Regions from separate parts of the Homo sapiens genome. Here region 2 is linked to region 1. Evidence: fine-mapped expression QTL. A gene starts in region 1. The other region holds a variant in brackets. All regions are shown on one strand. Distances are between the middles of the regions. Region 1 holds the start of ELOVL6 (ELOVL fatty acid elongase 6). Region 2 overlaps ELOVL6 (ELOVL fatty acid elongase 6).

Region 1 (16,716 bases):
TACCCGACCCATACAATACTTTTTAAAAAAGGACCCATGTATCTCTAAAATAAATTATTGGAGGGTAAATATAATTAGAGATGCTGGGTTTTTTTAAAGTTCTCAGAAACCTCAATAACTATGCCAACATTTGTACCTGCCTGAATACATGTACAATCAGAATCTGGATAAAGGAATGAAGTTATGAGTTTTAACATTACAATATAGCCAAGTCATAGTTTCACTCAGATTACCTAGGGTTATCAACAGAAATGACATATGTGGTACAGGTAACTTTCCCTAAACCCTCCTAAAAAAGATAAATGAGAAGTAAATGGGAGCGGGTGGATGTGAGCTACATAAAGAGTAAAGGGAGGGCTGAGGCAAACTTTGTAGAATGATGTCTGGTTCCTATTAATAAAGGACAGTTTGGCTCACCTGTGTCCATATGTGAAAAATTAAGTTAATCATTAAGACAATGTTTGGTTAACTCATTTCAGAAAATAAAATACTTGGACCTGAAATATTTCAGATCACTTAAGCCAAGATAAATTCCTGAATTGCCAGAATGGTGCCACACTCATTTTACTTTGTTGTCTAAAGACTGATTAGATGGGGGGCCGGGCACCTGTAATCCCACCTACTCAGGAGGCTGAGGCTTGAACCCAGGAAGCAGAGGTTGCAGTGAGCCAAGACCAGGCTCAAAAAAAAGAAAAGAAAAAGAAAATTGATTAGATGGTTATTGTATATCCCCCTAAGTATTTCAAAACCTCCGTCCCCCTCATAACTCTTCCACTATCTAAGCTGAAAGATTCCTCTGGCCGGGCATGGTGGCTCACACCTGTAATCCCAGCACTTTGGGAGGCCGAGGTAGGTGGATCACCTGAAGTCAGGAGTTCGAGACCAGCCTGACTAACATGGTGAAAACTCGTTTCTACTAAATACAAAAAAATCAGCCGGGTGTAGTGGCGCATGCCTGTAAACCCAGCTACTCAGGAGGTTGAGGTAGGAGAATCACTTGAACCCAGGAGGCAGAGGTTGCAGTAAGCCGAGATGGAACAATTGCACTCCAGCCTGGGCAACAAGGGCAAAACTCCATCCAAGAAAAAAAAAAAAAAGAAAGAAAGAAAAAAAAGAAAAAGAAAGATTCTTCTTTCAAGGAAGTATATAAGGCAACTCTTAGATATGGAATAAGTTGACTTTGAAGTTTCCAGCCATTTTTCTTACAAATGCACGCAGAAGGTTACGAGGAAGATTTCAGGAAGAAATTTAAAGCAATCCTCACTAAAGGAAAAACAACAGTGAAATACTATGTCTGCATTTGAAAAGTTTCATTAAGTTCCAATGTTATACACTTTGACACATTTAGAATCACCCTCAAACAAAAAAGCAACAGGCAATCCTCTGAAGATCACAAAATTTTACTTCCAATGTGAAAAAGACTTCATGAAAAAATTTTAAGCACTAATTATAACTAGTACAAATACACAGATGGATAATATAATCATAAAATATTTTGCATTAAGCTGGCTTTCATCCTTTGGAATCCTAAACAAGAATTGCATGAATATTTATAATTTATTAAAAGATACATGAAAGTTCATATCAAAGCTCCAGCACAACTTTACATTATTTTCTAGGACCCCACACAGATTACACGTTTTTTCTCTATGTATTTTCTCATTCTTCTCACTCTTAACCTAGTACATATGCCTACATCCCAGTGCTTTCTAAAAATTATTGAATGTCATGTTATGATCCTCACACAAGTTTTAATCCTAAATCAATATGAACTGTGATACCTCAAAATAAACAGCAAGTGACATGAGTACAATATAGACACACTATATTCCTACAGAGCTGACCAAATTTGTTGCTGCAATGTTAATGATGAAATGAAACTCTGGCCTACTCTGTTCCATAGTCACAGATGCACTGTTTTCCAGCCATTTTTCTTACAAATGAATGTAGAAGGTTGCAAGGAAGACTTCAGGAAGCAATTCAAAGCAATCCTCACTAAATGAAAAACAACAGCCAAATACTATGTCTGCATTTGAACAGTTTCATTAACATTATGCTGCTATATTTTTTATGCTGCTATATTTGAGTTAAATGCTAACACAGGTTTTTAGTGCTTTTTATGTTCTTTAATCATGAAATTGTACATCGTGTTACTTTCCAAACTTCACCTACAAAAAAGATATAGATGTACAACTCCTTTTAAAATGTTTCACGGCCGGTTGCAGTGGCTCAAGCCTGTTATCTCAGCACTTTCGGAGGCCGAGGTGGGCGGATTACTTGAGGTCAGGAGTTCAAGACCAACCTGACCAACACGGTGAATTCCCATCTCTACTAAAAATACAAAAATTAGCTTGGTGTCATGGCAGGCACCTGTAATCCCAGCTGCTTGGGAGGTTGAGACATAAGAATCACTGGAACCCGGAGGCAGAGGTTGCAGTGAGCCAAGATTGTGCCACTGCACTCCAGCCTGGGCAACAGAGTGAGACCCTGTCTCAAAAATAAAACAAAATAAAATAAAATGTTTCACTCCATTTTTACCTTTGGTAAAAACAAATTTGTGAATAAAAAGGCTTCCTCAGCTGAACAGCATTTAATTCTTAAAATTCCTATACTATCTTATAGACTCTATAATACAGAATACAAAATGTTAAAACAAGTAAACCCTTTTACACCACCAAGGGAGTGAGTGGGGAGAAAAGTCAGAAAAATATATAAAGCTTTGAAAGGCTGGATGTGTGGAGAATGCCAGGAGAGGGGGAGGGTTTCATGAAGTTCTAGGCAAGCCCTTTGAAGACGTCACCTCACATACATAATGTTACAGCAGTCAGCACAGGCCTCCTGCTTTCCTATTGGTGGGCACCGTGTCAGCCGACATCAGAAGATAATCATCATTGGCTAGACAATTACAACTGGAGCAACTAGCATCCACTGCTGTTAGCACAAACCTGGCAGGCTGCTGAAAGAGAAGGCAGAGAGAGCCCAGCTTCCCTTCTCACTCAATGAATTATATGTCGCCTTAGCAATCACCAGGTGATTTTGCTCCCTGGCTAGCAGCACTTCCAACTTAAGTCAGCTCTTAGTGAGAAAAACAGGTAAAGGCCAGACATCTCATAAAAGAGCAAAATGTCTCTATTTTCAATGTTGTAAAATTGCAAGGACTTTTCAGTGAAAATTAGAATTCAAAACTCCTATTTGGACCTATGAGCAGACATTTTTCTCTACCTCATGTAATAAACTCTCATTGACCAGATAATATAACCAGACAGGATATTTTTCACTGGACATGTAGTTTCAAGATGAGGCCCAGGATGATTCTACAAGGGAATACACTTATTACTTTGCATTTCAATTGCTATTCTAACCTATTATATATGAAACTTTTTGCTAGCAAAGTAAAAAAAGTCTGCAGTATTTACTTTCATGGCTAGGCCAATGAGTATGAGGTTAATGATTCATTAAAGCAGCAATAAACTTGAAAACTAGCCTCAGTTGAACCCTTTAGGGTTTATACAAATGCTACTCCAAAAGTCGGGCCCCATTCCATTAACACGTGCTATGGTTAGTAAGTATGGATTATAGGGTATGTTAACATTAATTTGCGCTATGGTTAGTAAGTATGGATTATAGCGTATGTTTAATAAAGTATTCTTATTTTAGGTCCTCTTAAATGATGCTAGTTAGCAAAGGCAGCATACTGGCAAAATACTACTCCTGGCCATTCTCACAGTTCTTCAAAAGCCAATGTAGTTCACTTTTGAGAGAGGATGTTTTAATTCTCTAAATTAACAAGTTTTGCCTGTTACTAAGAAGAGATTTATAAGGACAACCATAAATTCCCAAAAGACAGAGTAGAAGCTTCACTATATCATGTTTTTCCTCCAGAAGCTATTTCAAACCATTTTAAGTTAATGAGTCTGAAAAAGGTAAGATTTTATGGTTTCCTCAAGTTCCTCTCTCCTCAAGAGGGTCTAAGCCTTGGTTATGGAGTTCCCTTCTCCTATTAAAAAGGGAGTGAAAAGAAAATCTGGTTCAAGACTTTTTGTCCTGCATTAGCTGGATTCTATTAAAAATAAAAACTAAAAGCTTTAATTTGAACCTCCCGGGTTCAAGCAATTCTCCTGCCTCAACCTCCCGAGTAGCTGGGATTACAGGCACCCGCCACCACGCTCGGCTAATTTTTTTGTATTTTTAGTAGAGATGGGGTTTCACCATATTGGCCTGGCTGGTCTCGAACTCCTGTCGTCAGGTAATCCACCCACCTCAGCCTCCCAAAGTGCTGGGATTACAGGCAGGAGCCACCACACCCGGCTAATAAAATTAAATTTTAAAAAGTGTTTAAAGTCTTTTTGGCTGTACAGTTTTTGGGGAGGGAGGAGAGATAAAATTGGGCACCCTGGGATATTGGGAGAAATGCACAAAATCTGGCATTTAAAAAAAAACATGAAAGTAAGACAATTAGGGTCAGGAAGAGTTGCAAGGGAGGGGTAACAGCCAGCAGGGTTCTTTGACTGCAATAAGCAATCTAAGAACATAACATCAACAGAGAGCAGAAGCCAGGAAGGGAAAAATCCCAAGATGTGACTCTGCCACGGTATGCAAGTTCTAGCCTGTTAACCTTCGGGTATTAACGAGTAGTGCTGGCAATAAAATGGGCACCAATCACCATTTCAACTCACTGGACATTTTCTCAAGAATGTGCCTTATGCAAAGCACTCTGCTAGGTGCTTTGCAGAATCAAGAGTGGGATGACAAGAACCGTAACCTGAAGAGCTGATGGTCTGTAAGTTAATAACCATGTATATAACAGTAAAGGATATTGCCAGAAGAAAGGTACAGATAAAGAACTAGGAGGAAACAGTGGTCAGAACCTAACAGGAGTAGATACGTTGGCACATTTTTGTCATTTTCAGTCCCACGAGGGCTGAGACCTGTCTGGCTCAGTACTGAGTGAATGGAGAGAAGAGGCGGGAAATGGTACCTGAAGCAGGCCTAGGAAGTGGCCTCAGAGAAAAAGCAACAAGTAAATAAGAGGCAGTATCGACTGCAGTGGGCTAGGAATGGCGGGCGTACAGTGAATGGGGTCAGCCAGCAAAGCGAGGGAAAGCGGACTCCGGAAGAGCAGGTTAAACCAGGACGCAGCAAGTCAGAGATTCGGCACAGAAGCAAATGCTGACCACACTGACCACACAGGCTAATGCGGGAGGACTGTGGGCCCGAACAGGCCGGCTGGAGGATATGACAAACATGTGCGGAGAAGACCCGGGCCCGGGGCTAGCCAGCAGCGCGGTTCCGGCGCCCGCCGGCTCCGGCCACCGCCCCCTCCCCGCCTCCAGCACCACCCCCTAAGCGGGAGGAGGAAGTGCATCCAGAGAAGGACCCCGGGCGGTGGGGCTCGAGGGGCCTCGGCTGCCCCGAAACGCCGAGGTCTATCTGCGGTCTCGACCCTTAGTGTCCAACCTCCTTCCGGACCCACCCCTGCACCCCCTGGCCTCAGCGGCCCGGGAGGGCACCAGCCCTGTGCCTGTGTGGCTGCTGCACTTCCAGTCCTTCCGAGCGGCCCGCGTCCCCGCCTCTTAGGCTCCGGCTCGGGCCAGACGCGGCCCTTGGGCCCCTAGCCCACCGCCGCCACCAGCCACGCCGCAGCTCACCCCAAGCAGGCCTGCCCCGCCGGTGCGCGCGGCCCAGGAGGCGGGCTCCGCCCGGCAGCCGCCGCAAATGGCCATTGGGGCCCGGACCAGCCCGCGGGAAGCTGGGAGTGGGCGCGCTCCGGCCGGGCGGGAGGAGAAGGAAGCGGCGGCCGGGCCTCCCGACACTGGCCGGCGACTCCAGGGGGCTGGAGGACAGGAAGTTGAAACCCCCTTTTCGCAGCTGCGGCCCCGTGGCACCAGCTCCTACTGCACCAACCCGCCCAGGCCACAGGCGCGCCGGCGTTTCTGGTTTCCAGTTGAAGAGGGCAGGCGGGAGGGCGCGGGGCACGCGCGCTCGCGCACGCGGCGGGCGGAATCCCCCGGCTCCCGGGAGACCCTGCGGCCCGACCCTCCCCGGTCAAGCCATCCCCCGGGCTGCCGGCCCCTTGCCTAGCTCCGGGGTGCGTTGGGCTTGAACTTTACAGATCGCCAGACCCGAAGTTAAGGGGAGGAGAGGAATGCCTCTGCCACAACCCTGTCTACAAGAAGCGAGATGAGCACACCCTCCTCTGTTAAATATTGCAAGGTGACACTGGATCGCCTCCCACACAGGGATTTTCAAAAGGTCTGGCGGGGGGACTACAGTAAACAAGAAAGGTGTTTTCCCTGATTATTAGTTTCCTAGGGAAGAGCCCCTAAGGACTCTGCAGACGGAGGGGCTTTTAATCTGTGTGCCTGAACTCCAATCAGCAGCTACGCACAGAATTAGAAGTGTGTCCAAAAGGCGTTTCCGTAAAACAGAAACTTAATAATGGCGTGGCTCCACTCGCTCGGGTTCATTCATTTATTACTGTTTTCATTGTCCCCTCCTCCCTCCCACCCGGTCTCTCTATGAAACCGGAAAGGGAACCGCGTGGGGAAAGGGGTACTAAAAAGGGGGCATCCGCCTGAGGAGCGGCAGACAGAGGAGGACGGTGAAGTAGGAGCGCTGCAAGGAGAAAGGAAGGACACGAGGGATGGAGAGACAGCGAGGACCAGGGCCAAGGGCGGCGGGCGGGAGAGGGTTAAAGGCAACAGGAGACAAGGTCCTCCCTCCACTGCCTTTCACACTCCGGTTGCGGGAGAGGCCAAGCGAGAAAACCCAAATCTAGATGAAAACCGGGGGAGGGGAGGGGAGCACAGGTAGGCGATCTGGACTGTGGCATCTCTCCCGCCTTCCCTGTCGCGCAGACATCACCCTGTGCACACACATATGTTCTGTGTTATATAATCTATATAAAAGATGCCTATGTAGCCGCGGTTCACACAGGGGCACCCACAGACCTCGCGCTTCATGTACCCCCCCCCCCCCAGCGTCTCCTGCACCCGGGAGACCCGAGAACTCAGCGATCAGCTGGCTGCCCGCGATTCATCGCTCCATTCACGCCCAGGCAGGGAATACCGACATTAAGGCACTCCGGGAAGACGCGCAGGGCTCCCGGGAACAGTATCAGGCGAAAGCATCACGTACCAGTTTTCCTGCATCCATTGGATGGCTTCATTCTCGTTGAACTGCTTTTCGAATTCATATTCTTGTAAAGTCAACACTGACATGTTCATTGGGGCTGATCTTCGGAGTCGCTACGTGTTCTCTATACAAAATAAAATAATCTGTAAAGCGCTTGATTTCGAGTGTTCTCCTGTCTGCTTCCCCCACCCACCCCCCTAGGTCTTCCCCACGCCGCTCGGTCTCCAGCGGTCGTCTCTTCTCCCAGCCTCTCAGCTACATCCAGGGCTGAGCATTGCCTGCGCCTCCGCTCCCAGCTCCTCTCTCTGGGGCTCTCCTCCTCCCGGCGTCCGCATCCACCGTAGGAGGAAATGAATGCCTTGCGGTCTTAGTGCCCGCACGTTTGTCCATCACCCTTTTTACTCGTCTACAGGGAAATCTCCTCCCCCTCGTGCGATTTGAGAAATTAACCCTTGGCGAGGGAGTGTGCGAAAGAGCGCGACCTCTCTCCGCCCGGGGGGGACAGTTTTGTTTACAGCGAAGGTGGTTGGAAGAGTGGGGGAAGGGCGCAGAGAGAAAGGAAGTGGCCTGGAGGTCATCCAGATCCCCTAAGCCCAACCTCGTGGGCCGCCTTGCTTTGAATGAAGTTTCAGCTTGCAGGGCGCATCCCCGCGGCGCGTGGACCCGAGAGCTTGGCGAGTAAACGATTGGGAAATAGTAAAACCTGCCAGCTCTCTTGCAAGAGAACTCCGGGCAAATCTACGTTGAGATCACCAGTGAAGGGAATACGCTTCCCACCTCCTCGCCCTACCTCTGGGACCACCCCCACCCCTACCCCCACCCCCACCCGGGAGCTCTGGCTTAGATTCACGCTAACCCAGGCCCTGCGGACGGCAGAGCTCCTTAATCTCGTACAGACAGGGGATGCTGAGTGTGAGGATAGTGGATAGGCGAGAGAGGCTAGTAGCCGGAAGTGGAAGAAAGGGCTGGGTTAGGTGGAGGGTTTAGGTACCGGGAAGGGGGGGATTAATGAACAGAGGCAGAGTGGGGAAGGAAGCTGACAGGAGAACTGGACCGACTGGCCAAATGCAAAAACTTTATTTGCATGCATGAGAAATTTGGCTTTACTTGCTGTACTTGTAGGTAGAACAGAATATGTGAGGAGAGGGCTGAATGTACTGTTGACCCCTACTGGGCCCTCAGCCTCCAAGAGGAAAAACTATTTTCTATTCCATCCATCCCTCCACTCATTTCCCCCAAGAGTTTGGAAAAATGAAATATGAGACATGGAAGTATCTAATGATGTAATTGTAAACTTTACAAAATAATAAGGAGCCCTGCTTTTAAAAATTAGGTGGATATTAGGACCAGAAAGAAAATTCCCCTTCTGAGAACATCCCCCCACCTCCCCAGTAGTCCAAAAAGGGTACTTTCATTCAATTTAGATGCCTCTAACCCACAAAAAGTGGGAACTGGGAGAAAAATTTTTAAAGGAGGAAGGGACCGGCCGCGGTGGTGGCTCACAGAAGTAATCCCAGCACTTTGGGAGGCCGAGGTGGGCGGATCACCTGAGGTCAGGAGTTCAAAACAGCCTGGCCAACATGGTGAAACTCCGTCTCTACTAAAAATATAAAAATCAGGCAGGCGTGGTGGCGGGCACCTGTAACCTCAGCTACTCAGGAGGCTGAGGCAGGAGAATCGCTTGAACCCGTGAGGTAGAGGTTGCAGTGAGCCAAAATTCTGCCACTGCACTCCAGCCTGGGCGACAGAGGGAGACTCTGTCTCCAAACAAACAAACAAAAAAAAAAAAGAGGAAGGTCTAATGAGAAAGTAAAGAAATAATTTTTAAAATCCAGTACAATATATAGATTAAAGGGCTAGCCTAGTTGATTAGCAAATTAATGTATACATTGACACTGCCAAAGATTCTGTGTAGGGACTGTCCTCATCTCCCCCATTAAGGGTTGTCTTTCTTTTTTCTTTTTCTTTTTTTTTTTGAGATGGAGGAGTCTCGCCCTGTTGCCCAGGCTGGAGTGCAGTGGTGCAAACTCGGCTCACTGCAACCTCCGCCTCCCAGGTTCAAATGGTTCTCTTGCCTCAGCCTCCCCAGTAGCTGGGATTATAGGCAAGCACCACCACGCCCGCCTAATTTTTGTGTTTTTAGTAGAGATGGGGTTTCACCATGTTGGCCAGGCTGGCTGTGATCCACCTGTCTCAGCCTCCCAAAGTTCTGGGATTACAGGCATGAGCCACCATGCCCAGCCAAGGGTTGTCTTTCTAGAGACCTCTACAGTACAAGTCTACGTCACTTTGAAGTAAGGCCCAGGCCAAAACTCTTGGCAAGATTGGGCTGGAAGATAGGTGTGGCCAGATAAGAAAGAACCATTTTAGCACGGTGCCTGAGCCTGTGAATAATCAATAAATATTTGTAAAGTGAATGATTCATCAAATAAATTAAGGTAAGAAGTGAGAAAGGAATCAAGACAGAAAATCCACTTTGGGTGGCTGAGGCAAGACAATTGCTAGAGACCAGACTGGGCAACATAGTGAGGCTCCATCTCTACAAAAAATTAAAAATTAGCCAGGTGTGGTGGTACATGCCTGTAATCCCAGTTACTCTGGAGGCTGAGATGGGAGGATAGCTTGAGCCTGGGAGGTCAAGGCTGCAGTGAGCCATGATCACACCACTGCAGTCCGGCTTGGGTGACAGAGTGAGACCTTATCTCAAAAACAAACAAGCACTGTCAGTGACTTTGAAAACTGGTGACTCTGTATGGAAAGCAATTTGGCAGCCTATATGATAATTTCATTTATTTTTTAGAGATGGGGACTTGTTATGTTTTCCACGCTAGGACTATAGGCACCCAGCATATATCACAATTTTAAATCCACACCATTAATTCACCAGAATTATTTTTTTTTTTGAGATGATGTCTCCCTCTGTTGCCCAGGCTGGAGTGCAGTGGCGCGATCTCGGCTCACTGCAACCTTTGCCTCCTGGGATCAAGTGAGTCTCCTGTCTCAGCCTTCCAAGTAGCTGGGATTACAGGAATGTGCCACCATGCCCAGCTAATTTTTGTATTTTTAGTACAGACAGGGTTTCACCATGTTGGCCAGGACGGTCTTGAACCCCTGACATCAGGTGATCTGCCTGCCTCAGTCTCCCAAAGTGCTAGGATTATAGGCGTGAGCCATCGCACTTGGCCTACCAGATATATTTTGAGTACATACTCATCTGAGCTCTTGGGACTCACAAATGAGACAAACAGGGCTCTTGCGCACTTGGAGCTTACATTCCAGAAGGGAAGACAAAATAATTTCTTAGAGAATGAAATGCTAGGATTACAATTTAACAGCATGACATGAAGGCCTGGGAGTGCTCATTTAAACCTGGAAGGCCTCAGGGAGAAGGACTTTGAGTTGAGACCCCGCTGGCAAAGAGCCAGCCACCTCTTGCAGAAGTGTTACAAAGAAGAATGAGCAAGTACAAAGGCTCCTAGGAAAAGAATAAATTTGCGGGATTGAGGACAAAAGGCTGGTGTGGCTTCAGGCCATCAGTAAGGAGTAATTGAAAGAAACAGGTTGAAGAGACAGGCAGGGGTCAGATCTTGGCCACAGGTAAATCAAGATAAGGTGTTTAGATTTTATTCTCAACTGCAGTGGAGTGGAGGAGGATAAAAGAATGTTAAACCGAATAATAGCATGATAATTCCTAGTAAATTCACTGCTATGGATATACTCACCGAAACATTCCGGATATATGTCTAAGATATTCAGCATTGGGCTGGCATTATGCTTGTAATCCCAGCACTTTGGGAGGGCGAGGTGGGCTGATTGCTGGAGCCCAGGAGTTCAAGCCCAGCCTGGGCAAGATGGTGAAAACCTGTGTCTACAAAAAAAAAAAATACAAAAACATTAGCTGAGCATGGTGGCATGTGTCTATATTCCCAGCTACTCAGCAGGCTGAAGTGGGAAGATCACCTGAGCCTGGGGAGGTCAAGGCTGGAGTGAGCCATGATTGCGCCACTGCACTCCAGCCCGAATGACAGAGTGAGACCTTGTCTCAAAAAATGACAACACCAACAAAGAAAACCCCCACAAATATATTCAGCACTGTTTATAATAAAACACTGAAAATAATAGTTTAAGGGATAATTGGAAGGACAGCCAAGAAAGGAATGAGGTCAATAGACTCAAGTCAATGTGATTCATTGTCAGTCCTGGTGGGCTACCTCTTGACAAAAGCAGAGGAGGCAGCCCCGCTTACAGGCTATATAGCAAGGTTTTATAGGGCATATAACTGGGTCAGGGTGAAGGAAAAAGAAAAGGCCAGGGAGTAGGGGATCCTTTGTGCCAGGTGTCTGACCGCTTCCTGGAGTTGTTTTTCTTGCCAGTTCTGTTGTGTAAGGTAGACTTCTTGACCGCATCCTGGAACAGCTGGCCTCGGGTCCGACAGTTACAGGTGGGGCTTTGGGGCTTAGGTCTATGGGAGCGGGAAACAGTCCAGTTGGGTGGACCCTAACATTCCAGCCTTTTAACAGATGATAGAGAAGGGGCATTGATTTCATCAGACTGCTTCAGGCTGAGAGTGGGCAGGGGCTAGGGGAAAGGCTGGAAAGTGGAGGTTGGCTTTGGTTTTGAAAGTGTTGATACTCCTGGAGTAACATCATGACCTGTATGGTTCCATGGGCAAAGGCATGGATACGATTCTGCAAAAACTGGGTGAAGAGGAGTATTAGGCAAGGACCTAAGATTAGGAGGAGAAAAAGGATTACAGCAGGTCCAAGGAGAGAGGGTAGCCAGGCGGCCCAGGTGCTGAGAGATCAAGAGGGCCACGTAGAGGAGCTGCTTTCCCTGATCTTTTGGGCTCGATCTTTGAGATTTTGTTTGTTTGTTTGTTTGTTTTTTACTGCATCCTGAACTAAGCCTGACTGGTTAAAATAAAAGCAGCATTCTTCATCTAGGAAAATGCAGAATCCTCCTTTGTCGGTGGTAAGTAGGTTGAGACCTCTCTGATTTTGTAAGGCGACTGCCGCTAGGGAGTCCAGCTGAGCTTGTAAGGGGATATGGAAGTTGCAAGGTTGTCTATACCATCTGAAAGGTCTTTTGATAAGGTTTTATGGTAATAAGAGGAGGTTGCGATTCCTGCTACCCCTGTACCTGCGGCCACTGTGATGCCTAGGTCTACAAATAGTGGGATAAGTTGTATGGCCTGGCGCCTGCTGTGTGGGATTTGAGTATTTAGGGTTTGGAGGGGCAGGTTTTCTCCTGGAGCTATGTCTATTTTAGGGCTGAGGAAGACCAGTGTACAGGTGCCTGTACAGTTGGTGGGTAGACAGAAGCAGGTGGAGGTGCTGCATAGAAAGAATATACCTTGGCTAGGGAGGCAGAATTGGGACTGTATGGCAAAAAGGGGGTGTAAAACGTTCTCTGAGCACCAGGCGTGGAGGTAGATGTCTTGACTGCATCCTGGAACAGCTGGCCTCTGGTCAGACAGTTACAGGAAGGTTTAGGGTAGTGGGTTTTACTTTTGGCCTTTGAGGCTTAGGTCTAGGGGAGGGGGAAACAGTCCGGTTGGGTGGACCCTAACAAATAGGAGGCTGATTAAATAAATGGTGACACACCCTTATAATTGAATAGTATAAAGTCTTTTAAAAAAGGCTCTGTAGGTTGCAACATCAAAAGAGATTTCTGATAAATGTTCAAGGAAAATGAAAAAGCAAGGCACAGGACATTGTGTATATAGTGTCGCATTAAGAAAAAAACATCTCTCGTTGTAGTGGTTGGGGAGGAAAAAAAGAGGAAAACATGTAAGGCCGGATGTGGTGGCTCACACCTGTAATGCCAGCCATTTGGGAGGCTGGGGAAGGAGGATCGCTTGAGCTCAGGAGTTTGAGACTGCCTAGGCAACATAGTGAAACCCTGTTTCTACAAAAAGAAAATAATAATAATAATAATTTTTAAAAAATCATTAGCCAGATGTGGTGGCACAAGCCTGTGGTCTTGAGCCATGTTAGTGTTACTGCACTCCAACCTAAGGCAACAGAGCAAGACATCAGCTAAAAAAAAAAAAAAGAAAGAAAGAAAAGAAAAGAGAAACATCTACACTGTACTTTTTTTTTCTGGAAAGACAAAAACAAGAATTAATTGGTGATGTATACATTGAGAAAAAACCTGAGAGCAAACAAAAGACGGTTTCTGTACTTTATTTTTCTGTAGTGCTAGAATTTTCTTACCATGAACTTGATTTCATTTAAAAAAAAAGAAAAAAAATCAACAGGAATACCTGAGCTGTGAAATAATGAGTCACTTTTCTATTTGTAATTTTCTATACTGAACAACTTAACATGTAACATAATATTAGAAGCTAAACATATAAAATGGTGATTTTTCTAGACTTATTTTCAATTACAAGACATACAGTAAGGTTAGGAAAGATGGGAGGGAATGTTGGGAGGGTGCCCAGCAACACCACTAAGAATTTTTATGAAAAGATTTATTGTGTGTGTTTCTAACCATAACTAGATAGGTAGCTAATATTGAATATAAATAACTGGGGCTCAAAAAGTAACAGTTAATTTATATTTGGTAGTAAACTTTTAAAAATTTGGGAGGCCGAGGTGGGCGGATCATGAGGTCAAGAGTTTGAGACTAGCCTGGTCAACATAGTGAAACCCCGTTTCTACTAAAAATACAAAAAATCAGCTGGGCGTGGTGGCGGGCGCCTGTAATCCCAGCTACTTGGGAGGCTGAGGCAGGAGAATCGCTTGAACCCGGGGGGCAGAGGTTGCAGTGAGCTGAGATGGCGCCACTGCAATCCAGCCTGAGAGACATTGCTAGACTCTGTCTCGAGAAAAAAATAAAAATTAAGCCAGAAGAGAAGGAGGAGTATTTGAAAGACAGAAAGATTTACTGCAAAGATGACTTGACTACTAAACAAGGTATACAGGTTTTAGTCTTGGCTCTTTTACAGACAGGTATCTGACTTTAGGGAAAGTAAATTGATCCTTTAATTTTCTTTTCTTTTCTTTGTTTTTGTTTTTGTTTTTTGAGACAGTCTAGCTTTGTTGCCCAGGCTGAATGGAGTGTGGTGGTGTAATCATGGCCCACCTCATCCTTGAACTCCTGGGCTCAAGTGAACCTCTTGCCTCAACTTCCCAAGTAGCTGGGACTACGGGCACCCACCACCAAGCCCTGCTAATTTTTAAAAAATGTTTTGTAGAAATGAGGTCTCACCACGTTGCCCAGGCTGCTCTCAAACTCCTGAGCTCAAGAGATCCTCCCGCCTCAGTCTCCCAAAATGGTGGAATTACAAGGCGTGAGCCACCTCACCCAGCCTAATTTTCTTTCTATACATAAAATAACCAGTACTATGCTGGAGGATCTTCATACCAGCCCCCAATTTTTGTGACATACAAATATGTTAAAATACACATACATTATTTTCGGAAACTTCTAACACTAATCTGCTTTTCCAGGCCTCTTTCCTTAGGCCGACTCCAACCAAGCTGAACCACTTGATGTCATCTGACCACCTCAAACTTTGCTATCTCTGCTGCATTTCTCCATCAGTTCCCTCTGTTTGGAATATCAATATCCTCCCCTCCTAACCCCACCTGTCCCATTCCTACCTGTCAAAATCAGTCCACTCTTTGGATACTTACGAACGACTTCCTACTTAAAGCCTTCCCTGTTCACAGAGATGATTTCTCTCTTTCTTGTCTCCTAACCTCTTGAAGTCCTTGTTATCAAAGCTTTTATAAACCTCAGGCCCTTAGCTCATCATCCTCTCCCATGTAGGAAATTAAAAATCCCTTGATCGCAGGAACGATGACTTCCTGAAGCCAAAGTTTCTTAGGGTGCCATAACAATTACCACAAACTTGATCAAACTTGATGGCTTAAAAATAACAAAAATGTATTCTCATGTCATTCTGGAGGTTAGAAGTCCAAAATCCAGGTGTCAGGAAAAAAATAATCAAAATACTGCTGATCAGTTTAGGGAGAAAAAGAAATCAAGATGTCTGCAGAGTTGGCTTCTGGAGGCTCTGAGGAAGAAATTGTCCCATACCACTAGCTTCTGGTGGTTGCTGGCAAACTGTGGCATTCCTTGGCTTGTAGACACATTACTCCAATTTCTGCCTCCATCTTCACATCACCCTCTTCTCTCCGTCTTTCTGTCTTCTTTCTATTTCTTATAAACTCACTTTCATTGGATTTAGGATCCACCCTAATCTAGTATCATCTCATTTAGATCCTTATCTTTATTATGTCTGCAAAGACCCTTATTCCAAATAAGGTCCCATTCTGATGTTCCAGGTGGACATGAATTTGGAGGAAGGGACACTATTCAATCTCCTGACCATGGCTCCCCAGCAGCCTTCCTCCCATGACACCAGCTTGTATGTTTTCTGTCATTATTCCAAATTACAGATGTGAAGCTGAAGCACACTGATGTTAAGTAGTCAGCCCAAGAGCTCTCAATTCTTTAGCTGTAAAGTCAAAATCTAAATCCAGATACTCTGGATCCATCTTCTTAACCACCACAGTTGAGTCCTCCTCCCACTCGCAGGCCAGAGAGTGTGTATTTTTAGCCAAAAAGAGACATTTCTTCTCAACTTTAGACCATAGAACAGGATGAATCCAATTGACATAATTTACCTTTTTTCCTCTTCATCACCTCCTCTTACTCTCAGGGAACATTGACCAACTGAATATTTATAAAGAGCTTTTCTTTATTAACTTACATGGGGATGGAAAATACGTCTCTTTTGCCCTGAACTAGTTTCAATATTTGATTCTAACTCTGGAAACAAAACCTACAACGTAGGCTTATTAGAAGCTGCAAATTTGTACTAGAGAATAAGATATTTTCAACACACATGATAGAATATTGATGTCTTATTGAGAGGGAAACATCTGCAAATAGGGAAGAAATTTGCACCATCCCAATAGATGGATGAGAAAAAGATCCAGATAGACTCCTATATGAGACTATCAGTTGATTTAGAAAAGTACATGTTGATAGAAGTAATAATAGATCTCATTTATTGAGCATCTGCTGTTAAGACCTTACATGCATTGTCTCATTTCATCCTTATAACAACTCCATGCAATAACTCCATTTTATAGATGAGGAAAGTGGAGTTTGGAAATTTTAAGGATCCTGTCTAATTTGCCAAATGGCTAGGTTAGATTGCCCAATCTGTCTGATTCCAAAGTCTGGCTTCCATGCCATAACCCTGTATAGTCAAAAAGCCACTGTGAATTCAGTAATGGGTGGCATTTCTGTAGTTTATTAATTACAACAGCATCTTCATACATGTAGAAGAGTCCAGGCGAGGTGGCTCACACCTGTAATCCCACTACTTTGGGAAACCAAGGTGGGAGGATTGATTGAGCCTAGAAGTTCGAGACCAGCCCGGGCAAGATCCCGTCTCTACAAAAAAAAAAAAAGTATGTATGTATTTATTTATTTATTTATTTGAGATGGAGTCTCACTCTGTCTCCCAGGCTGGAGTGCAGTGGCACAATCTTGGCTCACTGGAACCTCCACCTCCTAGGTTCGAGCGATCTTCCTCCCTCAGCCTCCCAAGTAGCTGGG
Region 2 (16,716 bases), 37 kb before region 1:
AGATAGTCTTACTCTGTCACCCAGGGTGGTGTGCAATGGCGCAATCATGGCTCACCACAGCCTTCACATTCTAGGCTCAAGTGATCCTCCCACCTCAGCCTCCCAAGTAGCTGGGACTATAGGTGTGTGACACCACACCCAGCTAATATTTTATTTTATTTATTATTTTATTTTTTGATACAGAGTCTCACTGTATCTCCCAGGCTGGAGTGCAGTGGTGCGCTATCAGCTCACTGCAGCCTCCGCCTCCCAGGTTCAGGTGATTCTCCTGCCTCAGCCTCCGAGCAGCTGGGATTACAGACATGCACCATCACACCTGACTAATTTTTGTATTTTTAGTAGAGGCAGGATTTCACCATATTGGCCAGGCTGGTCGTGAACTCCTGGCCTCATGTGATCCTCCTGCCTTGGCCTCCCAAAGAGCTGGGATTACAGGCATGAGCCTCCACACCTGGCCTATTTTTATTATTAATAGAGACAAGCTCTTGTGTGTTGCCCAGGCTGTGATATTAATTTCTTGATGTGAACATGTGATTGCCTCTCAGCAAAGTTATTTTTTGAGCTATTTCTGTCATCAGACCCAAACCGAATTTCTTACCAGCTGCTAACTTTTCTCTTACACCATCCCCACTGAGTTGAGAAGATGGCTTGGTGCTACATGAAAGGGAAGTGGCAGTGTAACCACCAAAACAGATAATCACAGGCTATAATGTCACACTAACTATGGATCCTATCTCTTATTTGTAATTAACTTGGAGAAGAAATGCTAGGTCAAAAATGTGCTAGAGGTCAAAACAGGGACTTTCCACAAAGAGAGATCTGAGTCCAACTTTTACTTTTTTGACAGTTATCAATCCTGTGACTGATTCTTGCAGCATTATTTGAGAATTAAATGAGCAATATATTTTAAGCACGTTAGGCACTTAATATATGCTTGCTACAATATATTGTACTATACAATCTACATAGCATATACTGCTATTATATACTAATATATAATTGCCCAATAAATATTTAGCAAATTTGGGGCATAACTAGTAATATATTTTTTAAACTTCTATGAACATTTAATTTTGAAGTACCTATTGACCACACTCACATAGACCAAAACTTTTACTTCTTAAAAGTTTTTCAATTATAAATTATTATGATTGTTTTTTAAGAATCAAATCATAATGGTCATGGCTTTAAAAATCTTCCTACATTTGGTCACATACTATTTATTACATATTATATAGTTATAGTTATACTAATACAGAAGGGATAGCCCTAGAGACTGAGAGCATAGGAAACTCCTAATCTATAGCAAAAAAAATTATTATTTACAATAGTCAGAAAAAAATAATTTTTCAATCTATCAAAGATACTTAAATAGGTTGTATTACAAATTGAATATTTTACAAAATCAAAGTTTAACAATTTGTATCACAAATATCAGAATTTATCTATGCGATTGAGCTTTTTTGGAACACTTATTTTTCCTCTAACACAATGCCATTCTTTCCAGACAGTAAGAGTCCCAAGTCGTCCTGGTTCATATATCCATATCTAGACCCCGAGACAGTTCAATATGCATGATACAATGGCTACATATTGCAGGTACATTTAAAATAATCAGAATTGCTAGAGAGCTTGGGGGCAGATCAACAACCTCCTCGTATCTAACATCTTCCTAAACCACAGGTTCTCATCACATCTCCTGGAGAGATTTATTAACCTCCCACCCCCACTTCCACAGATGTCAAGGCCTCAGCACTGGTGATTATAAAAGGTTCCCAGACAATTACAACACGGGAAGCACAGCTCATGTTGAGAACCACTGCCCTGAATAATGAGCGTTGCTACAAGGCAGTATAGGAATAATAAAGCACACAGGCATTTGAAAAAGACATTTTGCAAACTTCTCTCAGGAATAGTGCCTTAGTGGGCACATATCCAAATATGCCTGCTTTCCTTTCTTTAAATACCTATTCAAGAGACAAATAAAGGAATAGAAAATAAGAAGGGGAAGACAAGAAAACTGGAGGCTGCACCAGAGCCACCTTGAAAATGTAAAGGATTGGTGGTTGTTACAGAGCCTGCCACATTTAGTAGAATCTTAATATTCAGGAAGTTAAAATGTTTTCTGGAGTGAGAAGCTGTGTCAGGAAAAGAGGATTAGGTAACAAGTGACCTAGAATTAGGATGTGATTCTCCCTGAAGGATTGCTGCAGAGGAGATAATGAAAGGTAAGGGCTTTTCCAAGACATTTCCACATTGGACTGACCTCCATCTAAAATCTTACTAAATATTAACACAAATAAAAGGGTTCTGGCTGGGCACAGTGGCTCATGCCTATAATCCCAGCAGAAGTCAAGGGTGGAGGATCACTTGAGCCTAGGAGTTCGAGACTAGCCTAGGGAACCTAGAGAGACCCCGTCTCCACAAAAAATTAAAAAATTAGCCAGGCATGGCACCAAGCATCTGCAGTCTCGACTACTCAGAAGGCTGAGGTGGGAGGATCACTTGAGCCCAGGAGACTGAGGCTCCAGTGAGCTAGGATTGCACCACTGCACTCCAGCCTGGGCAACAGAGCGAGACCCTGCCTCAAAAAAACAGAAAAAGAAACGGGCCCATGTAATAAAGCACATGCTTCTTTTTCAGGACAGAAGAGACAAGTGGATTGAATTCATTTCTTTAAGCAGTTAGTTTTATACTACCTTAGTAAGTAAAATAGGATTAACGAGTATCTGCCTTGGAACAAAATATATCATAAAACTGAAAAGCATCCACACTGAAAACACAAAATTAGTCCTCAAAGAAATCTTTCATATGGTAACCAGTAACTGGATATTTGCGGTTAAAAGAAGCCATAACAAGGCTGGTAAAAGATGCAGTTTCCTTAGTCACATAATTGATTTGTAACAACTGATAGAAACTGGCTAATCATCATTCTGATTAATCATTTTTGGCAGATTTGAAAAGGAGGATAGTCCAAAAGTAAATGGCCATCTGGGTCACTGCCCATTTGGGGTTCTTCTAGCAAGGCCAAGAAGAAGGAGGAGGGAAAAGAAAGGCTCAAACATTTTATTCGCCCCTAGTGTCAAGTAACCACAAACTTCATTTGTTCCCTCTATAATTTATTGCAAAAAGTAGGAGAAACTGAAGCATAATATGAAATTAATTTGGTACATACAATGTGAAGCAAAAATAGTTATTCCACTTTGAGCTGGTAAAATGCCAAATAATAGTACACAGTAATTAGAGGGAGGGAAAAGAAGTGACTGAATACTCTAAAATATGTCTTGGATAGGCCAGGTGCGGTGACTCATGCCTGTAATCCCAGCATTTTGGGAGGCCGAGGCAGGTGGATCAAGTGAGGTCAGGAGTTCAAGACCAGCCTGGCCAAGATAGTGAAACCCCGTCTCTACTAAAAATGCAAAAATTAGCTGCACGTGGTGGCATGCACCTGTAGTCCCAGCTACTCATGAGGCTGAGGCAGGAGAATTGCTTGAACCTGGGAGGCGGAGGTTGCAGTGAGCTGAGATAGCGCCACTGCACTCCAGCCTGGGTGAAAGAGCAAGGCTCCGTCTCAAAAAAAAAAAAAATTTCTTGGATATTTTATTTCCTTAAGAAAATCATCAACTCAATAAACATTTACTGAGTGCCAACTACCTCAAGGAATTATAGTATCTGCTATGGAAGCTGTAAAGCTATGTGCCCTCAGGGAACTACACATGTTGAAATAGCCTAAATGGCACTTTGTTAGTCTCATTATATTGACAAGCAAATTATTAAAAGTAGGAAATATATATTCATGAAGAAGTGGACCAGCACTTTGTCTTTGACAGGGCAAATCCTTTTCTAGGTACAAGAAGAATTAACTAAATACATTTAAATAATCATTAAATATCCAATTACTTTATATATAAACACAAAGATAAACCAAAGTTCATGGATATAGTACATTGAAACTGTATTTGTCAAGTTAGTTAATTATGCTTTAACACATGGTTTCAGAAAATCATTATATTATGCTCTTGCCCTTGTTGGCAATTTGACACTTTTAACATGTTATTAACAAAAATCCAAACATACTATACAACCCTATTCTGCTTTATATTATGAAAAGTTCATCTTTCCACATCACTACATATTCATCCATCTCCACAGAAATAGATAACTACAGTAAAGAACAACCTAGTGGACCATTGTGTGCACAGTCTATAATTCAATAAACCCCATTTTGAAGATCACAAACATTTTTAACTAAACATCATGTGCTTTATTTTGTAGCACCTGTGAGATCAACCTACACATTTCCTCTAATCATACTAGGTTTACTGAGAAGGAACACAACTCTTAGGAAGAAAAACTCCACACTCATTAACATTTTTCTGTATCCCGAGGGCACGATCAGTCAAGAACCAGGACAAAATTTAATAACCATTCTCTAATTGGCAGCCAAGATATTGGAGAGAGATATATATATACATCTATATATATATGTATATATATACACACACACACATATATATACACACACATATATACACGTGTATATATATATATATATATATATTTTTTTTTTTTTTTTTTTTGAGACAGAATTTCGCTCTTGTTGCCCAGGCTGGAGTGCAATGGCACAATCTCAGCTCACTGCAACCTTCACCTCCCAAGTTCAAGGGATTCTCCTGCCTCAGTCTCCCAAGTAGCTGGGACTACAGGCGCATGCCACTATGCCCGGCTAATTTCTGTATTTTTAGTAGAGATGGGGTTTCGCCACGTTGGCCAGGCTAGTCTTCAACTCCTGACCTCAGGTGATCCGCCTGCCTTGGCCTCCCAAAGTGCTGGGATTACAGGCATGAGCCACCGTGCCTGGCCAAGATATTGGATTACTAAGTTAAACAAATAGTCATGACTCACAAAATCTGAATCTCAGCTCTTACTTTGCATAGTTGCTTTGCTTTTTATCAATTTTAATCACTTCTAGACTTACATTGTGATTTGCATAGATTTTTCTCTCTTTTACCTGTAAAACTGAGACAATAATTATATACCTGACAGCATGAAGATAGTGTCATGCTGGAATATTAGATACTTTATTTAAATAAAGATTTTCCTTTATGCATTTAGTCAATACACTTTTATGGAGTGCCTTCCATGTGCCCAGATACCAGGGCAAACCCAGGGGAACAAGACAGACAAAAATCTGTCATGGGATTTATAGTACAAGAGAACTATTAGTTAACAATATATGAGAGGACAATGATAATAACTTGATGACAAAAGTTACTTTGCTTAATCATGTAAAGTAGAAAAAGAAGTTATCTTTCAATTAAATTTGTATGGTTTTAATTTTTTACTATAGAAATAAAGTACACAGTTTTTCTTTTTTTTTTAAAAGTCAAGTAACACAGGGAGTTGTAAAATAAAAGCCAAGTCTCCTTCTCTTTCCTAATGAACTCTCTTCCACTTCAGATTTTTATGCATATTCACGTATCAATAAATGCATATACTTTCTAAAAATCATATTTTAAAAACTATCGTGCATCTTGGTGTTTTTCACTTTACAATGATGTATCTTTGAGATCTTTGCACATTAACACATGAGACGTTGGTGTTTCTAACAGTTACAGAGAATGCAAAGTCACCCTGCAAAAGGATTCCAAAATGTACAAAAATTCACACTTTCAACAGCACATTTCTCTCTAACACTCAGATGACTGCTCAAAAATTTTAACCTCTCACAATCTAAAAGATGAAAGTGTATCTCATTGCTATTTTATTTTTTCCGTTATGAGTATATTTAGGCATTTTTTCACATGTCTACTGAAAGAAATGGCTAAAAAAAATTTCCTTTCCTGTGAACTTTCTATTCATGTCGTTATTATTGAGCTATATTTTTCTTATGGATTGGTACGACCTCTTTTAACATTAGGAAAAGTGGCACCTAAAGAAAAACACTTAAACATCAAAGTTTTCTAAAAAACAACACATGAGGGTTTGCTTACAACTTACACACACACACACACAAACACACACACACACACACAAACACTATTGGATGTCTTTTTAACAGTGTATCTTGGAGATCTTTCCATGACAGTGTTGCTCCTGACACCCTGTCTCCCTTGACAAAGAAGCTCCTTACAGGTAGAGCATTTTCACTGGCCCTCTCCTTGGCCTTGAATTTCAAAACTGGCATAGATCACTCTCACTATTTTATAGCCTTTGCTCAATATTGTTTTCCTGAACATCCCTGCAAAATTATATCTTCCTTCCACTGGCCCACCCACCCCTGACTTCCTGTGTTGCTTTACTCATTAGCAGGAATCGCTATCAGACATGCTATGTATATACAAACTATAATAATATATTACTTATTGGTCTATGGTCTATCTCTTGTTACTGAAATGAAGTCAGGGATTAAAAACAGTATCAGTAAATAATTTGCATAGGCGTGCTAGTTTACAAGCTTCCATCAACACCAGTCTCATGGTGGTTAAGCTTCAGATATTTTTGATTTACTGAAATTATCCTCTCTAGGCTATTGTAACAATTAAATACTAAAAATATGCATGTTGCCCATATGTTGTTGCAATGTGCACTTTTGAAATACATTGTTTTCTATAGAAAGTTTAATTACAAAGGGAAATTAATAAATTCCTTCATGTGAAACACTGACTATATTCCACAGTGAAGATAAGGATAAGAGATATGATCATGCAACAAATAAAAGGGTTGGGAAACAGCTAAACAGAGAGAAGGAATGCAAGCATCTCACACACTGACTGACTCCTTTATGGTTTTAATTGTTGCTTTTCTATTCAGTGGAGTCTTGCACCTTATTGGTTTCTCCAACAGAGTAGATCAGTACTAAAGAATAAATAGAATTCAAGTCATTATCCAGTACAATTAGCAATGGATGCTGCTACATGAAAGAATGCTATCTATTCCCTCTTGTAATGGTGGTAGAGAGGTATAATATACAACCATTACAGAAGACAGTATCTAGCAACATTTCCAGTGCAATGTAATCCAAGTAATAAAAGACTGGAAAAAAACACAAACGCCCATGTAATGGATTATATACAGCCTGAACAATATAGAATGCAGAAGCTCGTAGTTTACTCAAATGAAATATGTCTGTGTATGTATAAAATATCTTCAAGATGCACTGTTAAGTCCATAGAGTAAGATACAAAATGCTATGTATTATATACTAGCATTTGTGTTCTTAAAGGAAAAAAATATATAGTCAATCCTCATTCACTGATTCTGTATTTGCAAATTCTCCTACTTATGAAAATTTAACCCCAAGTCTATACTGATGGCACTTTCATGGTCATTTTCAAACATGCACAGAGGGATGAAAAATTGGAGTTGCCTGACCTGCACATCCCCAGCTGAGGTGGAGCAAGGTGACACACTGCCTCCTGTTCAGCTCTCATACTGCAAAATAGGTGTCTCTTTTGCAGTCTTATTTAGTTCCATGTCTTTCCAATTTTTGTGCTTTGTGTTGGCAATTTCACGGTTTAAAATGGCTCCCAAGCTTACTGCTATCTCATGTTCCTAAGAACGAGAAGGCTTCAACAGGTCTTACAGAGAAACTACGTATGTTAGATAAGCTTCATTCAGGCATGAGTTAGTGCTGTTGGCTGTGAGTTCCATGTTAAGGAATCAACAATATATGTTAAATAAGGTATTTTAAGCAGAAACACACACAAAACTAGGTTATGTGTTGATCAGAAATATTGTAACCAAAAGCTCTCAGGAAACTAACGCTGTATTTCCCTAAGTGCAAGGGTTCCATATTCACAAGTTCAGTGTTTGCGGTGACTTTACAGAACATATCTACCTGGAATAATGAGAATCTCATTATTTGTAATTGCTTTTGTGCACACAAAACATCTCTGAAGAGCACACTGGCTATCCGCAGGGAGGAGAATTGTGTGGTTGGGGAAAGGGATGTAGTCCTTTATATAAAATACTTTTTCACTGCATACCCTTGTGGAACATTTTAAATTTTATACCATGCCTAGTTTATAATTGTTTTAATCTAAAGTTAAAAAATAAACTAAAAGAATGCTAACAGTAGAAAACTGAGCAAATGATTGAAAGATTACCCATAGTAAAATTAATTATAAAGGTAACAGACAACCAAAATTTTTTCTTAATTTTAGTCAGACTCAGTAAAACTTTAATGTAGTGATTTCAAGAGGCTGTGCTGAACCATTTTGCTGAATATAGACATCTTGTGGGTTGTGGGTTTATTTTATTTTTTGAGACAGGGTCTCA[A/T]TGTGTTGCCCAGGCTGGAGTGCAGTGGCGCAATCACAGCTCACTGTAGCCTTGAGCTCTTCAGGCTCAGGTGATCCTCCCACCTCAGCCTTCTGAGTTGTTGAGACTACAGGCACATGCCACTATGCCTAATTTTTTTTCTATTTTTTGGATACAGGGTTTTGCTATGTTGCCCAAGCTAGTCTCCAACTCCTAGGCTCATGCAATCCCACCCACCTCAGCCTCCCAAAGTGCTGGGATTACAGGTGTGAACAACTGTGCCAGGCCTGAATATATAGATATTTTGGATGACTGTTTTCCCCAGAAAATTAAAGTTGCCATTTTCCTCCTGCCTCCCTACAGGAGGTTAATGAATGTGCTGAAGTACGCCAAATTTTAAGGTACACAAATGTGATATGCAACATAATAAATTCCACTGTTTACTGAGCTTCTACTACATACTAGTTAATAGACATTATTTAATTAGATTTTCACAACTCTGCAAAGCAGTTATTGGGACACTCATTGATGAAGAGAAAACTGAGTCTTCAGGAGTGAACAATTTACTTGAGGTCACCCAGATAGTCAGTGGTGCAGCTGGGGTTTGAACTAAATGGTCTGTGTCCAAGACTATGTAGGGGAAAATCAGTCCCTGTGAATGAAGAAAGACCCAATCATTTAGATAAAAATAGTACAGAATCACACTGAGAATATATGAACTCCAAACTACAATTCAAATGTGCAATCAATATCTGAGGTATTCAGACACAAAACAGAAAGCAGAAGCCTACTTGGGTGCGAAGCCATACACAGTTCACCTGAGGGGGCTTTGTATTTGTTGTGTCCTATCTGGATCTCTCTTCTCCTAGATGGGCCCAGGGCTAACATGGTCTTCTCATTTGCTACTAGGTCAGATGCCAATCCTTTAGTAAGGCTTTCCCTGACCCCCTAGCTAAAACAGCTCCCTCTGGCCCCAAGTCACCTCCTATCACACTATTTTCTTTATAGCAGTTAGCAACATCTAATGTTATTTTGTCTATATACTTGTTTACATGTTTAGTGTTTGTGTCCTAGTGGTATGAACGGTCTCTGAGAACAGCGGCCTTGTGCCTGGAACAGAGTCTGGCAAATACAGGCTCCTCAATAAATATTCATCAAACTGAGTCACTGAAATTTAACAGTTATGGACTGACCGCATAGTGTAGCAGACTGGGATGAAGGCCAAGTCTTATCATCAATGAGTATAAAATGCTAGAAGGGTGATATACAAGTCACAACTGACTTTAATATGAGAAAATCTACCACTGCCAAATGAAAAGCAAAAATGGAAGAGTTTAAGATTAAAAGTTCAAAACCTTAAAAGGTTGTATGAAGGTGGCAGCACTGAGTTGGGCTTTCTAAGTTTCAGAAATAGAGAAAGAAGAGAGATATTCCAGTGGTTTAATTTGCCAGGGTCATAAGATACTTATAGAGCAATGGGAGAACTAACTGTAAGATCGAATGGTGAGTTAAGGTCAAGGAATCTTCCTTATCAGGTGGGTAAATCTGAGTCATAGTGACAGGCAATTTGGGAGCAATGAAAAGTTCTTAGCCCTGGTTGTGACATGACATTTCTGAATGTGTAATGAGAAGTTCAAAAATGTTGGCTAGGAATTCATTACTCAGTTGAAAGCAAAATAATACTAAAATATCTGCTGAGAGTCATGCCAGTAAAAGCTACTTTTCATGGAGAGCCTAGAAAGTGCTGGACATTTTGTAAGCCATTGACACACCTTAACTAGTTTAATTATTACTACAGCCTAATTTGATTATCTCAATTTCACACTTAGAAATGGGGGCCTAGGGAGGTTAATGAATGTGCTCAAGTTCACCAAGTCATTAAGTAGCAAAGGCAGAATTGAAACTGTGTCTGAATCCACAGGTCCCAGAGTTTGATACACTGCTGCCCTGATGACAAGTTAAGGTGAGGGAAGATGAAGCCAAGGCCACCCTAGGAAAGGAAAAAGTAAAACGGTTTGTATAGCATGAGTATTCTGAGCTAGGCACTAAGGAAACACTTTGACCTAACTCAGCTTTCATAAGTCTGCCACAAGATGCCATGAACATTTGTCACAAGAAAGCAAGCACAGCCGGGTGAGGTGGCTCATGCCTGTAATCCCAGCACTTTGGGAAGCCAAGGCAGAAACAAGCTGAGGCAACGTGGCGAAAGCCCATCTCTACAAAAAATAGAAAAATTAGCCCGGTGTGGTGGCATGCACCTGTAGTCCCAGCTACTCAGGAGGATGAGGTGGGAGGACCGCTTGAGCCCAGGGAGGTCAAGGCTACAATGAGCCATGATCACGCCACTGCACTCCAGCCTGGGTGAAAGTGGGACCCTGTCTCAAAAAAAAAAAAAAAAAGAAAAAAAAAAAAACACTCAGGTTGGAAGGCAGGTGGGTTGGTAGGCTGCTCATTTATTTCTGATGAAAGAATTTCTTGTTTTGGGGAATTTCTTTTTTTTGAGACAGAGTCTCACTCTGTTGCCCAGGTTGGAGTGCAGTAGCACAATCACAGCTCACTACAACCTCTGCCCCCCAGGCTCAAGCAATCCTCCCACCTCAACCTCTCGAGGAGCTGGGACTACACGTGCACCCCACCACACCCAACTAAGAAAGGATTTCCTGAATGTAATGTGGTATGTGGCCTTTCTGTGCATTTAGTCTTTATCATGCCACCCAAATTGTGGTAAACATATAAGCTTGTAGAGCAGGTTTGATCTCTATTCTTCAAAAAGAGGACTGGTTTCTGACTAGCTGGACTAGCAAAACAGACCATTTGCTAGATATCTACAAACTATAAGCAACCCTCTCCATTATCCTCTCACAGAAAACAATACCAGGGCACCTGTTTAGTGGAACCATGTGCTATTGCCATTCATAGGCCAAAATAGTTAAGTATCGACAATTTACAGGAGGCCCTTCCACCATTATGTTCCTGATTTTGTGGTTCCTTCCTGTCTAGCAGACCTACTCCAACTCCTTAGCCTGGCTTCCAAGCTTCCAATCGACCCTCACAACCCAACTTTATTCCTCAAACCCCACATAAACCTTAGTCAGGCCAGGCTGATTCTCCTCTCAGCTACTGCTGCTCATCAAATCCTCCATTTTAATAGCACTGCAAGAAACAGGAGGGATGAGCTCAGGTTGTCTAGCTCAGAGACACAGCAGCCTGCACTTCAGCTTTGTTCTCTGTAGCACATGTGGCTGTGGTAGGCAGGAAGTAGCATGGTCTCAGGAGCTGGGCGGTTCTAATCTCATCTGAATCACACACAGAGATGAGTTAATCACTTCTTTGAGAGTCAGCTTCCTCAACTATAAAATAACAATTATGATGCATTCCTGTCAGAACTAACAGGAGGATTTTTGTAATAAAGTATGTGGAGCTGGCCAGGTAACACCTGCCTTGCAAAACCAAACATTTACCCATGCATTGGAGTGAACCCAAGGCTAATTCCCCAAGGACAATCCTATATCCTCTGCCAGAAGAGTTTAGCACATCTGGGAAGTGGGAAAAGAGGGTGGTCTTTTCCACGTAAGAAAACCAGTTAGGCTTCTCTACATCCCTAACAAATTATCAACCCACGATCCTGCTTTCAATACATCTGCCTCCTCTGTCAGTGACAGAGCCTCAGCACTCCTGGGACAGCTTATCAACAAAAGCCCAGCTCAGAGCTGATCTGGAGGAAAGATACTGTCAGCCTTCCCCTGGGTACTATAAATCCCAGCCTGCTATCAAGTGAGATCCTAGAGAAGTTGCTCAAGGCACATTCATTTCGCCCCTGGACTGCAGTGTTCTTTGACATTATATCCCTGATTTTCCTTCAAATGTTGTTGTCTTTGGGCTAGGACCTTGGTTTGTTCTTAACTTACTTGAGCAATAATGAGACATCACCTTTCTTTTCAGATAACAAGAATTCTCTTAAATTCTTGTGTTTCAGCCAGGCGCGGTGGCTCACGCCTGTAATCCCAGCACTTTGGGAGGCCAAGGCAGGTGGATCACGAGGTCAAGAGATCGAGACCATCCCGGCCAACAACCGTGAAACCCCATCTCTACTAAAAATATAAAAATTACCTGGGTGTGGTGGTACGCGCCCTGTAGTCCCAGCTACTAGAAGGGCTAAGGCAGGAGAATCGCTTGAACCCGGGAGGAGGGGTTGTAAATGAGCCGAGATCGCGCCACTGCACTCCAGCCTGGTGACAGTGAAACTCCGTCTCAAAAAAAAGAAAAAATTCTTGTGTTTCCACTTTTGCCCTTGCTGCCAGAAGGCAATGAACACTGCCTGTTAATCTCAGCATGGTCAGCCCTCATGGTTAGCATATAAGACATCATGAGTATTCTGGTGCTACCACCATGAAAGGAAACTCCGTCTTCCTTTTTCATCAACCCAACTATTAGCTCTCAAAGTCCCTGCCTTTTGCTGGAGTGTTTCTAAATTTCTTAGCACATAGTGATTTTCTATACTATAGTTACTATAATACTATATTCCAGCACTGGAATATTTGTTCTTTTTCTGTAGCATTCTACTGTATTTTGCATGTACATCTGCCTTCCTAAACAGACTGTGATCCAAATAAGTTGAAATATATACAGAGGGTCTGTCTGTCTGCCAATGCTAGGACATTGCCTTCTATTTCTTTGTCTTCTCACCTGTCTCCTGCATGTCAGGCACACTCTCATCATTTAGTAATCACCAGCTGACTTGACCCAAGAAGACCAAACAGTCTGAATGCACACAGTAGCTGAAGATCACAGGGTTTCAGTATCTCTCCACTGGCAAAAATATTAGGTGCATTGAGACACACTTCTGGTTCTCAGGAATAAAAACTTTATCCCATCTTCAAAATGTAATCGCTATTAGAGTATTTTTACATGCACAGTAAAAGGACTTGTGTTTTAGTACATACAGCGTTAAGTACTTAACCTTATACTAACTGTAAATATGTCTCTCTCTGTGTGTGTTTACAAATTGGCCTTGTTATTATACATGCTGTTTCATAAGCAGAGTTTTCTGCAACATGTGGTATACATTTTTTTTGTCAAGATATATTCTTCTATAATATAGTTTTAATGGTTACATAAGAGTTACTAAAGGATGTTTTTTTGGTTGCAGAGAGGGGAGTGAAGGGGGAACATTATAAATTTTATTTATTTTCTTGAGGCAGAGTCTCACTCTGTTGCCCAGGCTGGAGTGCAGTGGTGCAATGATCCTCAGCTTCCACAAGTAGCTGGGACTACAGGGTGCCTGCCACCACCTCAGTTATGTATGTATGTATGTATGTATGTATGTATGTATGTATGTATGTATGTATGTATGTTTGTATGTAGAGACAGGGTCTCCCTGTGCTGCTCAGGCTGGTCTCAAACTCCTGGCCTCAAGCCATCCTCCCACCCTGGCCTCCCAAAGTGCTGGGATTACAGGCGTGAGCTGCTGCACCCAACCTCTCTTATGCTTTTGGAGAGAAAAAATAAAACACCTATCTCCATGATTAGGGCTATTCTAACAGTTTGTACAAAACTTTCTGAGGCCTTGAGAGGCAGAAACATATCCAGGCAATTAAGGAAGTTCTTTCTTGTATTTTTGATATATAATTTTAGATTAAATGCTTAATTCCAATTGGAAGGTATAGTTAGAAAACGTCTACTACTTAAGATTAATATTTTAGTGGAAATTTTGTCTTTGTATCAATTTATGAACAGAGCCAAAATTTAAGTGAACATAAAAGAGATTCAATGAAAAAAAGTTAAAACCCTTTGAGAGTAAATCATTTTTAGGTGTATTTTTAGCTTATTGCATGAGAATTATATGGCTATAAATCATTAGAGTAAGGGTCAAATTCAGGCCAGTGTGATGGCTCATGCCTGTAATCCCAGCACTTTGGGAGTCTGAGGTGGGCAGATTGCTGGAAGCCCAGAGTTCGAGACCGGCTTGGGCAACAAGGCGAAACCCCGTCTCTACTAAAAAAATATGCAAAAGTTAGCTAGGCATGGTGTTGCATGCCTGTAATCCCAGCTACTTGGGTGACTGAGGCACAAAAATCACTTGAACCCAGGAGGCAGAGGCTGCTGTGAGCCAAGATCGTGCCATTGTACTCCAGCCTGGGCGACAGAGCAAGACTGTCTAAAAAAGAAAAAAAAAAAAAGTCAAATTCAATGGATGCAATCAGAACTTTTTCAAAAACTGCTCTCACGTGCTTTCATTGTGCAGAGCTCATTTAAACAAAATGAGCCCCACCATATGCTTTTCAAAATATCACCTTTGAAAATGGTTTCTGTAATTTTCCCAGTAGGTGCTGACGTCATAAGCCAAAGCAGGAGAGACCCAGACTCTGTGGACAGGCAGTGTGGACCTAGACTGCCTGGGTTTGAAGCCTCACTCTGCCAATCACCAGGTGTCCCACCTTTTCCAAGTTACTTAACCTCATCTCCAAGACATGCCCAATCACAAAGCCTACTTCATAAAATGGAGGGTTAATTAAATTAATGTTCATGAAGCCTTTAGTGGGTACGTGGTAAGCTCAATGATTATTAGTTAATAATATCCTTATTAAACGTCCAGTAAGTCTTTTTTAAATGTTATTTTCTTTGAGAAAGGGTCTCACTCTGTCACCCAGGCTGGTTTGCAATGGCACCATCATGGCTTACTGTAGCCTAGACCTCTTGGGCTCAAGCAATTCTCCCATCTCAGCCTCCCAAGTTGCTGGGACTGCAGGTGTATGCCACCACACCTGGCTAATTTTTGTATTTTTGGTAGAGACAGGGTCCACCCACCTTGGCCTCCCAAAGTGCTAGAATTACAGGTGTGAGCCACTGCACCCGACCCCAACAGAGTTTTGGGGTTTTTTGTTTTGTTTTTTTTTTTTTGAGACGGAGTCTCGCTCTGCCACCCAGGTTGGAGTGCAGTGGTGCGATCTCGGCTCACTGCAATCTCTACCTCCTGGGTTCAAGTGATTCTCCTGCCTTAGCCTCCCTAGTAGCTGGGACTACAGGTGCCTAACACCATGCCCAGCTAATTTTTGTATTTTTAGTAGAGATGGGATTTCACCATGTTGGCCAGGCTGGCTGGCCTGTAACTCCTGACCTCAGGTGATCCACACACCTCAGCCTCCCAAAGTGCTGGGATTACAGGCGTGAGCCACCATGCCTGGCCAGCCCAATAGAAGTCTTTAAATAAGTATTATTCAGAATTTCTAGAAAACACACTCCAATCATCTTCCATATTAAAACAATGGTGAAGGATTCACGGTGTGTGTGTGAGCACACACAGGTGTTTGGAAATTATCCACTCTTCTTCCCAGTTCTCTCTGGATTCTCCCTTAGGAAACAAAAATTTTTGATCTAATTTTAAGAAAATTTTTATTTTTATGAATTTATGCTTATATTCATTTTATATTTAGTTTTCTTTTCTTTCTTTCTTTTTTTTTTTTTTTGAGATGGAGTTTCCCTCTTGTTGCCCAGGCTGAGTGCAATGGTGCGATCTCAGCTCACTGCAACCTCTGCCTCCCAGGTTCAAGCGATTCTCTTGCTTCAGCCTCCCAAGTAGCTGGGACTAAAGGCGTGTGACACCACACCTGGCTAATTTTTGTATTTTTAGTAGAGATGGGGGTTTACCATGTTTTACCATGTTGGCCAGACTGGCCTCGAACGCCTAACCTCAGGTGATCCACCCACTTTGGCCTCCCAAAGTGCTAGGATTATAGGCGTGAGCCACTGAGCCCAGCCTATATTTTGTTTTCTATATTTATTAGATTTATAAATTTTTTAAATCTCCAGCCTTAAGAACATGCTTTATGATTTAAATTTGAAAAGACAAGTTCTCTATATGAAAATAAAGTTCCCTTATCAGCATTTTGTGATATATTTACTGCTAAGTATAGGTTGTGTGCTGCCATTATAAATTTGAATTATGCAAAAAACAAGATAAAGGCTTGAACTTTGCATGTTACTTCTAGAACAGAATACAGCTGATCCTCATTACTAAGAATTCATACTTATTTAGCATACTCGCTAAAATTTATTTGTAACCTCCAAATCAATACTCATAGTACTTTTGTAGTCATTTGTGGTCATGCAAAGAGCAGTGAAAAAATTAAGTTGCCCAATGTGCACATCCCTAGCTGAGGCTAAACCAAGTGATGCTCTGCTTCTTTTTTGGACTCTCATTCTCTAAACAAATGTCCTTTTTGCAGTGTACTTGGTCCTACCTTTCTTACATTTTTGTGCTTTTTCATGATTTCCCTATTTAAATTGGCCTCTAGTGCTGACATGCTGAGGAGTGTTCTTAACCACAAGATTATGATTTGCCTTAGAAAAACACGTTAGATTAGCTTAGTTCAGGCATGAGTTGATATTGACTGCAAGCTCAATGTCAACAAATCAACAATATATTAAATAAGATGTGTGATATTATATATACAGGTT

Evidence for each region. PIP is the estimated chance that this variant, and not a neighbour inherited with it, causes the effect.
Region 2: its variant is fine-mapped to the expression of ELOVL6 in whole blood (TOPMed, PIP above 0.99).

What each region holds. Positions count from the first base shown.
Region 1 is chr4:110,191,110-110,207,825 of GRCh38, forward strand. ELOVL6 (ELOVL fatty acid elongase 6) reads right to left here and starts at 7,506. Exons shown (of 4, transcript NM_024090.3): 1 at 7,138-7,506. The coding sequence starts at 7,226. RefSeq lists enhancers at 5,204-5,498, 7,087-7,879 and silencers at 5,233-5,342, 5,543-6,172.
Region 2 is chr4:110,154,098-110,170,813 of GRCh38, forward strand. All of the region lies in intron 1 of ELOVL6 (ELOVL fatty acid elongase 6), which reads right to left. Among named protein-coding and RNA genes, the nearest start is that of ELOVL6, 36 kb to the right of the region's middle. The variant A/T (reference allele first, on the strand shown) is at 8,281.